2 separate regions of the Homo sapiens genome follow, and region 2 is linked to region 1. A link means that fine-mapping ties the variant in region 1 to the expression of a gene that starts in the linked region. Tissue or cell type: lung. Region 1 holds a variant in brackets; the other region holds the start of a gene. All regions are shown on one strand. Distances are from middle to middle.

Evidence for each region. PIP is the estimated chance that this variant, and not a neighbour inherited with it, causes the effect.
Region 2: BRINP3 starts here. The variant in region 1 is the best candidate, but not a certain one, in a credible set for the expression of BRINP3 in lung (GTEx, PIP 0.57).

What each region holds. Positions count from the first base shown.
Region 1 is chr1:190,701,699-190,706,970 of GRCh38, forward strand. The region is part of intron 1 of LINC01720 (long intergenic non-protein coding RNA 1720); the gene reads left to right. Among named protein-coding and RNA genes, the nearest start is that of LINC01720, 79 kb to the left of the region's middle. The variant T/G (reference allele first, on the strand shown) is at 2,952.
Region 2 is chr1:190,475,672-190,480,671 of GRCh38, forward strand. BRINP3 (BMP/retinoic acid inducible neural specific 3) reads right to left here and starts at 2,193. Exons shown (of 8, transcript NM_199051.3): 1 at 1,777-2,193. It overlaps BRINP3-DT (BRINP3 divergent transcript), which reads left to right and starts at 2,589. Exons shown (of 3, transcript NR_110716.1): 1 at 2,589-2,821; 2 at 3,411-3,469; 3 at 4,674-5,000.

The DNA.
Region 1 (5,272 bases):
GTTTTCCCCAAAGAAATAAGAGTAAACTGATTAATAAGGTTTTTGATTACTACATCTTCCATATTTATTCTATGAATGAGATATATTAAAAATCATAATAATGCATAAATTTCATTCCTAAGCCTCTCTGGAAATAATCCATTGTCAATTCAACATTAATATTGTTTAGAACATATTTCTTAAATGGGAAATGTGATAGATACGAAGGGAAAGAAGTAAGTCAGAGAAGTATGACTGTGGCTTACTATGTATGTTGCAAATTTCTACGTTACAAATTATGACATATACTTAAATATTACTCCAAAATATGAGACAGTATATACAACTGGATCTTCCCAATACATGTAGAAAATACAATATCACATTATTTTTCTTATGGAAGATGTTTTTCACTTTTTTCAGAGAATCAGGTTCACTAGGACACTAAGGAAACTTAAACCAAGATTTTTCTTTTCTCTTTTCTTTTTTAAACATGTATACCATTTTTTGTATCACCAACCTCCAACCAACTTCAGAGACAATTGGTTTTCTACTGCCACTCAAAATATTGTACTTTGTGCTAAATTTTGTTGTTATAAATATATAAAATATGTGTTATAGACTTTGGAACAGTTTTGAAAGGTCAAGTTTCATCTGTTTGTGGTGTTACCATCCCCACTATACACTTGAGTGAGATCCTCTCTTGCTGATATTGAACAGAATAAAAATATGAGAGACGGGCAGTTTTAGGAGGAGGAAGATAAGTTGCATTTATTTTCCTTGGGTCTCTCCCTTTTTTTCCCCTCAAAATTTGGCTATTTCAATTTTTCACAAACTCAATAATGGAACAAAGTTTCTTAATTTGTGGAATATTTATATGCTTAACATTGTTTAATGTGATCTCTGCTGCCATGTGTAGCAGCATTAAATATAGATTTTAGAAACCACCAGACTTCAAATCTTAGATTTGTCACTGTGTCACTTTGGAAAATTATATTCTTGGTTCTCTGTTTCTTCATCTATAAAATGAGAAGATGATAGTATGATTTAAAAAGGATGTTGTGGGAACTCAATGAATACACATATATAAAATACCACGTAGAATGGAATTAAGCTTAGAGTCCCACATAAGCACTCTGTAAATGTGAACTATTGCTATCGTGGTTAACACTGGTGAGCTCAACTGGGAAAATAGCTAGGAAAAACTTGATAGGTAGTAAATTTCTGGTGAGTACCTTAATTAAAAATGGAAGTAGGGATTCCTTATGGCTTCCTTCAGCAGGCTGCACAAACATACCTATGGATAAATAAATTTTGATTTTAAGCACGGTAGTTTAATCAAGATCTTATAATAGCATCGTTCTCTTTGAGAGGCAGGGTGGTAGGAGTGTTTTGGGGGGAAATGATGTCTCCCATTTTCATTAAAAGAAGTTTCCCTCCCTCTACTATTTACTCATTTATATAGATTAAAAAGATTTATCTCATAAAGACAGGGACTATTTCTCAGATACAGGGATGGTGAAAAAAAAAGAGGCAAAACAATCATTATTTACAGATAATACAATTGTTAAACTAGAATACCTCAAAAATGAAACCATTTGATTATAAAACAGTTTAGTTATATGTCAAGATGTAAGTTAAACATATTAAAAAGCAAAGCATTAGCTTCATATGCATCACTAAATTCCAAGGAATAATATAATGGAAATTACCTCATCTACCATAGGACTAAAATATAGCATTGTATTTCTAAAACAAAAGGATGCTACTTAACTAAAGAAAAATAAACAAAAAATTTTTCAAAGCAAAAAATACTTTGAATAAGGGTTTGAATAACTGGAAAGATGTATCCTCTAGGAAAGGAAAAAGAGGGAGGGAAAGGAAAAGGAGGAAGTGGAGGAAGAGAAGAAGAAGGCGAGAAGGAGAAAATATCTTTTTGTATAAATCAGTATTTAGTTAGGAGACAAAAAGTACACAGTAATTTGAAAACAGGAAGTTTTATATAAAGAAATATTAACCATATTCCTGAGATTGGTTATTAAGACTGAATAAAAGAAAAAAAAGGATTCTAAAAATTTCTCCAAGGCTTAAGAAAGGAAAACAGTTGGAAGGAAGCTCTCTTCCTCAAAACTGTAATTCAGCCATCATCGGAGGGTGTGTTACTGCAGCCTACTAAATGGCAGAGAAGTTGCAGGATTGCCTTGGTGGTCTGAATGTATACACAGTGTTGGACTGAGCCCGGTGAGCAGGGAGCTGTGGACAGGGACTGAATTTAGAAGCTCCTCATTAGTGTGACACCCGACTGAGGCTGGAGCATGGGTAACTGTGGTTGGGTCTGCCAATCAAAACATCACCCACTGGAATGCTATCTGACTAAAGGTAATGGACAAGGAGCTGGAGACTGGCCAGCAAACATAAAGCCCTTATGAGGATGCTGGCAGGTCAAAGCTGGCAGTCAGAAATCCTCAATCAGCTCATTGTAAATAGTTGAGTTTGGTCAACGGGGAACTGTAGACCAGGACTGGCAAGGAGGTAACCGTCTGTTGGGTGTCACTTGATCAAAACAGGCAAAAGGAGATCTGCAAGCCAGGAAACCCCATCTGGGAAGCTGGGTGGCAAAGGCTGATGAGGCAGAGAACCCAGAGGGTAAGTGGCAAGCTACAAGCTGAGCACTGCTGGAGTCTCTGTTAATTGGTGGGTGCTTTACAACACAGGAACAAGCCAACAAAGCATACACAAAAGGGAAAGAAAACTTCTCTTCTTATCTTTTCCAGGGTCCTTCTATCAGTCTTTACTGACAAAGCTTAACATTGTGATGATTGACAAAGGAGAAACGCTGTAGTATCACAAGCAGGAGAAGGAAAGGTCAGCTTGGAGCTGGGAGGCAATAAGTTAATTAATAGGCACAATTTTGAATGTCAATTATGTTCAAATTGATTTGCAGATTTAAAGCAATTGCAACTAAATCCAAA[T/G]TTGATTTTGAGAGAATTTGTCAAAAATATATTCTTGTAAATCTGAAATGACAGGTTTAAATAAGAGTTCAAGGAGCCCCAAAACTCTGCAAACGGGATGCGGTGCAATCCTGGTAATCAGGGCTCCAGGCTTCTTCAACCAGAGCAGCTCCGCTTTCATCTGCTCTATACTTTTGAGTGCTGCAAAGGCTTAGTTTGAAGGACCCTGCTATCAAATGAAAGCATTTGAAAAACATATTCTGCAAAGTCTAAGCAGTGGAAAAATAAGATAAAAAAGAAAAATAAGGTATTAGACTTAGCAATCATTAACATTTACAATTACCCTAGGCTAAATATTCAAATATTTATTCAAATATAAATAGATTGCCATGGAAAACTGATTGCTTATTACAGACACAATTATAATAAACAATTTGATGTATGTTACAAGTGGCAACTCAAATCAAAAGAAAAATGTTTATTTTTCAACAAAGGGTGTTGGTATGCTTGAAAAAGCTATTCTAAAAACAAAGTGTCAATTTATATTCTTACATCACCTATAAAAATAAATTCCAGATGGAGTAAAGAGTAAAAAACAAATTTAAAAACCCTATGAAAGTTTAAAAAACAGATAGTTATCAAACCTAGAATGTGGGTAGAATTTATAACATCAGAAGAAATAGATGCACATACTAGGCAAATATGTACCTATGTCCCCAAATATTAAACATTTTTAATGTCAAAATGTAAGTAAATAAGCAAACTATTTTTGCAACTCCAAAAAAGAAAAGGTCTATATATTTCAAGTGATTTCCATAAAAACAAAGGTGGCAAATCACGGATAATTCTAAAACCAAAATAAATAAGTGATTATTACTAGACTCCTCACAAAGAACTGTTAGAAGTGACTAACAGAGATGCTAATAAAACTTTATAATTATAATCAAAATAATTATAATTAAATCAGTATTTCTAAGCATATAAAATATCCTGACTTAATTACCTAGGAAAATCTACTGTTCAAAATGCTCGCTACATTAGGTGCAGTAATTAATTTCTGTCAAAATCTAGCTGAGATGAATATGCAAGCATGTAACTATTAAAATTATTTCAGAAAGTTGAATGGGAAATGCTGGTCCTCAACTATAAAAAATATAGTACTCTAAAGTTATCAAATGTGGAGGGACATTTTGCTACATTTCTATTAAGAATTTCACAAGCATGAAAGATTTATAGGCCAATGTCAAGGAAACTTTCACTAGAGTTAGATGAAACTGAACCTGGAATAAAACATGGGTTTGTAGCTGTAGAGGAGTAACCAAGATATACCAAGAGGAATAAATAGCACTAGCAAAGGTTATAAGACAGGAGAGTAAAGATATAATTCGGCTATGGTAAAAAGAAGACAGAAAATATGAATTCTGGAGCAGATTACAGAGTGCCTTGTAAAGTCAGTCTAGAGCATGTAGATTTTACTATAGTAAGCCTAATGCAACATCAGTATGTCTGATGAATCTCATGGGAAAGAGACTAGAAATAGATTACAAATGAGAAGGTTGCCATAGTTTAAGTTAGAGTTAATATATGCCTGTAAAAATACAGTGAAATTTTATATATGAATAAATAAACTTATGAGTAAAACCTTTTCTAATTGACTAGAATCAGGGGGAAAGGGAGAGTAGATGTTAACAAAAATTCCAATCATTTTTCAATCTTTTGTGGCAAAAAAAAAAAAAAAAAGCCACTATCTATGGCAAGGAATACTCAAGGAGCGTTGGTATTAAGGACAAATAATGGGTTTGATTTTAGACTTGCAGTGGAATGGGGAAACAAAATAATTAAGTAAAACTTTTTATAAGTAATGGTCTGATCAAGGAGCCGGGAGGGAGGTTAAGAATATGTAGGCTTAGTATGGAGGGGTTAAAATTAGGTACTAAACTGAAATTTATTATTTATTCATCTTCCTACAAAGAATCATTTTTAAAAAGGAATTTCTTTTCTTTCTTTCTTTCTTTCTTTCTTTCTTTCTTTCTTTCTTTCTTTCTTTCTTCTCTCTCTCTCTCTCTCTCTCTCTCTCTCTCTCTCTCTCTCTCTCTCTCTCTCTGTTTCTTTCTTTTCTTTGAGACGGAGTCTCACTCTGTCACCAGGCTGGAGTTCAGTGGCATGATCTCGGCTCACTGCAACCTCCGCCTCCCGGGTTCAAGCGATTCTCCTGCCTCAGCTTCCTGAGTATCTGGGACTACAGGCATGCTCCACCACACCCAACTAATTTTTGTACTTTTAGTAGAGAGGGGGTTTCACCATGCTGGCCAGGATTGTCTCGATCTCTTGACCTCATGATC
Region 2 (5,000 bases), 230 kb before region 1:
TGTTGATAACCCTCCAGTTAAAACGTTCTTGGCAGCGGGAGCCCCTCAGATGTAAATTTCCCTTTCACACGCTTGAGCTTCAGGTATAATACAGCAAAACGCACTTACCTAAATACTGACTGTCTGTTCCTTACTGGATCTGACTGTACTGAAAGTTTTTTTTTTCTTTTTCTTTTTTTTTTCCTCCCTCCACCCTTGCGCAACAACAGCAGTCCTCCAAAGAGAATGTTTGAATTGAATTATATGAAGCCCTCCTTTCTTCAAATGAAGTCACGGACTCTGATGGCACTGGCTTGTCAGGCAGGACGACCGGACTGGGAAAGAGACCAGGTAGAAACTAGTGACCTAGTGACGGGTGAGGGGCGCCAAGTGGTGCGGACCACAGTCTCAACCCCCGTTCCCTCTCGGTGGGAGTCAAGGGGGAAAAGCCCTTGAATCCCGAGACGGGGGGATGGGGCGACGCTGCAGCTGGAGTACTTTTATGTCTGGGAGCTAAAAGGGCTTTTGAATTTAAAAAAACATTGCTTGGGTTGTCGCGTCAGCCATCAATGACGACAAGAATAGTTATTTCCCAGAAATTAAAAAAAAAAAAAAGGAAAAGAAAAGCGTGAACAATAGGTTCTTACCTCCATGTATCCCAAGAAAAGGAAATGTTGTAGAGACCAGGAACTTGTCCTTAATTTGAGGGCGGGGGGCGGATGTTCAGAGAAAACCCTCAGTGGGTGTTAAAAATTACCGATACATGCAGGTTTGGCATTTAATGAATATCGTGCTTTCCTCATTATGTGTCAATTGTGAAGTAAAAGTAAAGATTAAAATGTTTCTCAACACAACTATACGGAAGAGGAGGTGATAATCTTGTCAGTTAAGTCCATAGAAATGTTCATAAAAGCAAAAGGCACTGACCATATTAACATGCCTATTAAACACAAGGGTTGGGGGCAGACAAGTATGAAGAGTGAGGCAATTAAATTTTTCATGTAAAGTCTATTCTTGAATTTCAATTTATCAGAACCAAGATAATCAGGGGTTTCTTCTGATTGCTCCTCTCTGAAATGAGTACTCTGTGTCCAATTAACTGTTCACCAGCTAATTCACAAAATCAGAAATGTACTGACAAATACTATGCCTGAATTAAAATACAATGCCTAAAATAACGTGCTTATGTGTGATTTGAAATATTTTAAGAAAAAAAAATGGTGCCCTCAAAACTCACAGTCCTCTTCCTACCATTCAGTGGCATTTTAGTGCTTAAGGTCTTGCTAAATTCATAAAAATACACTTTGCAACAAAGTCTTCCTTCAGTCATGTAATTGCTTATCATGAACAAATGCTGACCTGAACAACCTTCTGAATATCCGACTAGCGAACTTTCCAGACCTTGCAATTGTCAGAAGGTCTCTTTTAAGCTCTCTCTTAGATAAACCTATAAAATGTGACATTTCAAATGGCACAGGAATGTGTGCCAAGAAGGGTTAATGGGGGTGGGGGCGATTAATGTCCGTGTAACCCATAATATAAATGAGGACAAATATTTTAAAAATAAAGAAGGTAAAAGATATTGGGGTAATACATGGGATATTGGGGTAATACATTACATGGGTTATGTCTTAGCAGTGCAGTTGCCACTAACATACTAATTAATAAATATGGCCATATGGATCTTTCAGTTCTGAAAGTAACAAAAATGTGAAAAATGAAATACTTCAACAAAACAGAGCTTATTAAAAATAGCAATAGTTAAGTTTCTAGTAACAGATAAAGAGAATAACTTACCAGAGGAAATTTCAGGAAGCAAGAAGACTGTGAGAAAAATACATCCAGGATTCAAATAGATATTCCATGATCTTCCAAATCAAGGTAAAGTAGTGAGCTGCAGGGTAGTAGGACTTTAAAATAATCAGCAGTTCCTGGTGGCATGTAACCAAGTAAAAACCAGTTACACAGAGAGCCACGAACCCCCAAGGCAAGAAAGCAGAATGTGAAAATGCTTTATATGGGGGGGTGGGGAATGGTGGGGGGTGATTCGTGGTGATCCTTAAGCAAAGTGAAAATTTACAGGCTGCACATCCCCATACAGTGGGGAAAGGCAGAAGCTGTGTAACCCCAGAGAACAGGAGGTGGAATACAGATAAATCTGCAAAGAGAAGTAAAAGGATGTGTTGAAGACAACGAGATAAAGAGAGAACTAGTGAGCAAGGCTGTAGTCATCCTGATAGATATAGCAGCAAGAATGATTTAGGCTGCTGGGGAGGATCCAATGAGAATTCAAGAGGGCACCACTTCGGAAATCCTGCTCTGATCTTCCCACTCTCAGTTCTTTAAGAGTTACCTGCGTTGGGACCATTATCATTAGGATTAATAGTATTCCATCAGTGCATTTCACTAGTATTTCCCTTGAACATTTTCACTTGCAGCAACTGAGGGAGGCGTAGTAAGGAAGCCCAACACAACCAATTCCCCCACTCCCCAAATAAACCACTACGACCGGTCACATTACGATGACCAAATCATCAGCGATTTGCACGAGGCGGTGGGGGGTGGGGGGTGCGGGCGGTGATCGAAGGGCTGAAGATGCGGAGGAGGCCGAGTCGCTAGGCGCTTTCGGGGGCGCTGTGCCGGTGAGGCTTAGGCAAGGGGACGGGGAACCGTGGTTAGATGCAGCAGCGGCGGCAGCAGCCCTCCCAGGTCCCACTTCTTTGGCGTTCCTGCTGCCTGTGACTCAAGACAATTGACTTCCACCTGAACCCTCAGCTCCGAACGCCTTGCATTAGAAGCTAGAGCTTTGGAGGTTCTGAGGACGGTCCCTGGGGAGCAAGTGGTAGGTTTCGAGGCGCCCGCTTCCCCTCTGATTCCTGCAGTAACTGAGAGAGAGTGTGCCAGAAATGGCTTTGCTGCCGAATGCATTATCTTGCCATTTTCGTGTCCCAATACTGAACAAACGATCGCCTGATCGATCGGTAAGATTAGCTTTATTCCTTCTCCCTATTCCTCTCCTTGGCCCCATTCCCTCTGCAAGTCCAAACCCCAGTCTCTCTCTCTCTCTCTCTCTCCCTCCCTCTCTCTCTCTCTCTCTCTCTCTCCAGGAACTTCTTCCTCTTTGAAACCGGTTTCCCAAGGGAACTGCCTGTGTGACTGAGAGGCTAGTAATCTGTTTGTAGATGATTTATATTTTGGCTGCAGAATGAATCCCCCTCCCTACTCGGAGTACTCTCCTTAGAGATGATCCCCCGCCCCCTCCCCATGGGTTCGCTCTCAGAGCTGGGATCTGTATAAAGAGCGCTGTGGGAGTCTTTTGCCCTCCGCTCTAGCTCTATCTTCCTCCGGACCCCGAAGCTTAAGAATTATCCGCCTCACTCTCTTTTTTAGAAATAGGAGGGAAAGGTAGAGTGGAAATTGATTTCTTGCAGAGACTGAGGCGCTGAATGATAGAGGGAATAAACATTTGCCCTGGATAAAAATGTTCTTGGTAAGTAATCTTATTTTCTGCGGTTGAAAAAGAAACAGATTGCTTCTCACTGCCCCATCCCCCACTCCATTCATTTATTTGCTCTCTGTATGTAAATCACGAGCTGGGTCAGTGGAAATTTTTTTTTCCTCTTCCCTAGGAGAGTAGTAGCTTGTAAGGGTGAAATTGAAGTAGAGGGTTTTAAGGAGACAATATGAACGCTTTAAGGTCCTTTATATCCTGCATTAAAAACTCAAAGACAGATAAAGCAGTTAAATCCCTGTTTGTTTCCAAAAGTGGTATTTAAGTATTTCCCTTATTTCCTACTAACTGTCTTTCCTTTCTGAAAATAAAGAAAAGAGTTTTAGGTAGTGGGCTCATGTCTATGCTTTTAGTATGTCTTGGCCATGTTCTGAAATACAATTTCAGTTCCAAAATTAAGAATGGTTATTTTTCACATTTCGCAGGTATATTAAAGCTATAGAAACCACTTATTAAATGTGCATCTCGGTTCCAATTATTGCACCAGATACAAATTAGTAGTATCCACAATGGCATATTGTGGTGGTACTACAAATTCATAAAGCCCTCTGGTTTTCCATGAGTCTCTAGCACCCCCAGCCTGTGCACGCTCACAATGTGAAGAGTGGATTGGTGTAGCAGTAGGGAAGAAGCCAAACGGCTCTTGATTGTGCTTACATCATATGTCATTAAGTGTAGAGAATAACATGTTTTGCAAATTGTGTGAACTTGGTTTTCAAGAGTAAGCTGACCATTTTTGATGCACAAAATTAAGGGAGATTTGCTCTCAGAAAAATCATTGCATTTTTAATTATAAAATATATTTTACTGGTAAAACATTTAAATTAAACTTTCTTGTCTATTGTTATTATCCTACTGCAATTTATTATCCTCTAAATTTAATGACAAAGAATAAGCTAATTGGCACAAAATGCATTCCTGATGAAAACAGGATGACTGAAAAATCATCTGAAATGTATAATACTAAAATGTTATTGGTAAGATAAACTTCATTTTAGAAAATCAGTATTCTAGAAATCAGTAGTATAAAATTTCAGAAGAGAGGTAGTCAAGTGGCATATTGCAAGACAAAATATGTTTGTTCTCAACTATCTATATAGTCTTTATAGCCATCAACATTTGCAAGAGAAAAAAAATTCACTAAGGGCATGTTGGTATAACACTTTTTTCTTTCTCTCCTCAGGCTGTTGTCCAGCTCTAATGATGTCCTAGAGCAGAAGTGTTTCTTCTGATGTCTCATTTTAACAAGAGGATGATGTCTGTGTATGTCTCTGTGTTTTAGAGAGGCTGGCAAATGCTGCTAAGAGGATCTGAGGTTCACATAAAGAGGATGAAAATTCTGAATTACTTTCATTGCAAATAAACCTTAACAATTGTGAGAGTTAGAGAGCATACTTTTCACATAAGACTTTGGTATGCTGCCTAAAGCTACTTACATAATTTGCTATTCAGAGAAATGCATTTGTTTATTGAGGACCCACCCGGACTTAAATTGGAAAAATGTAACATT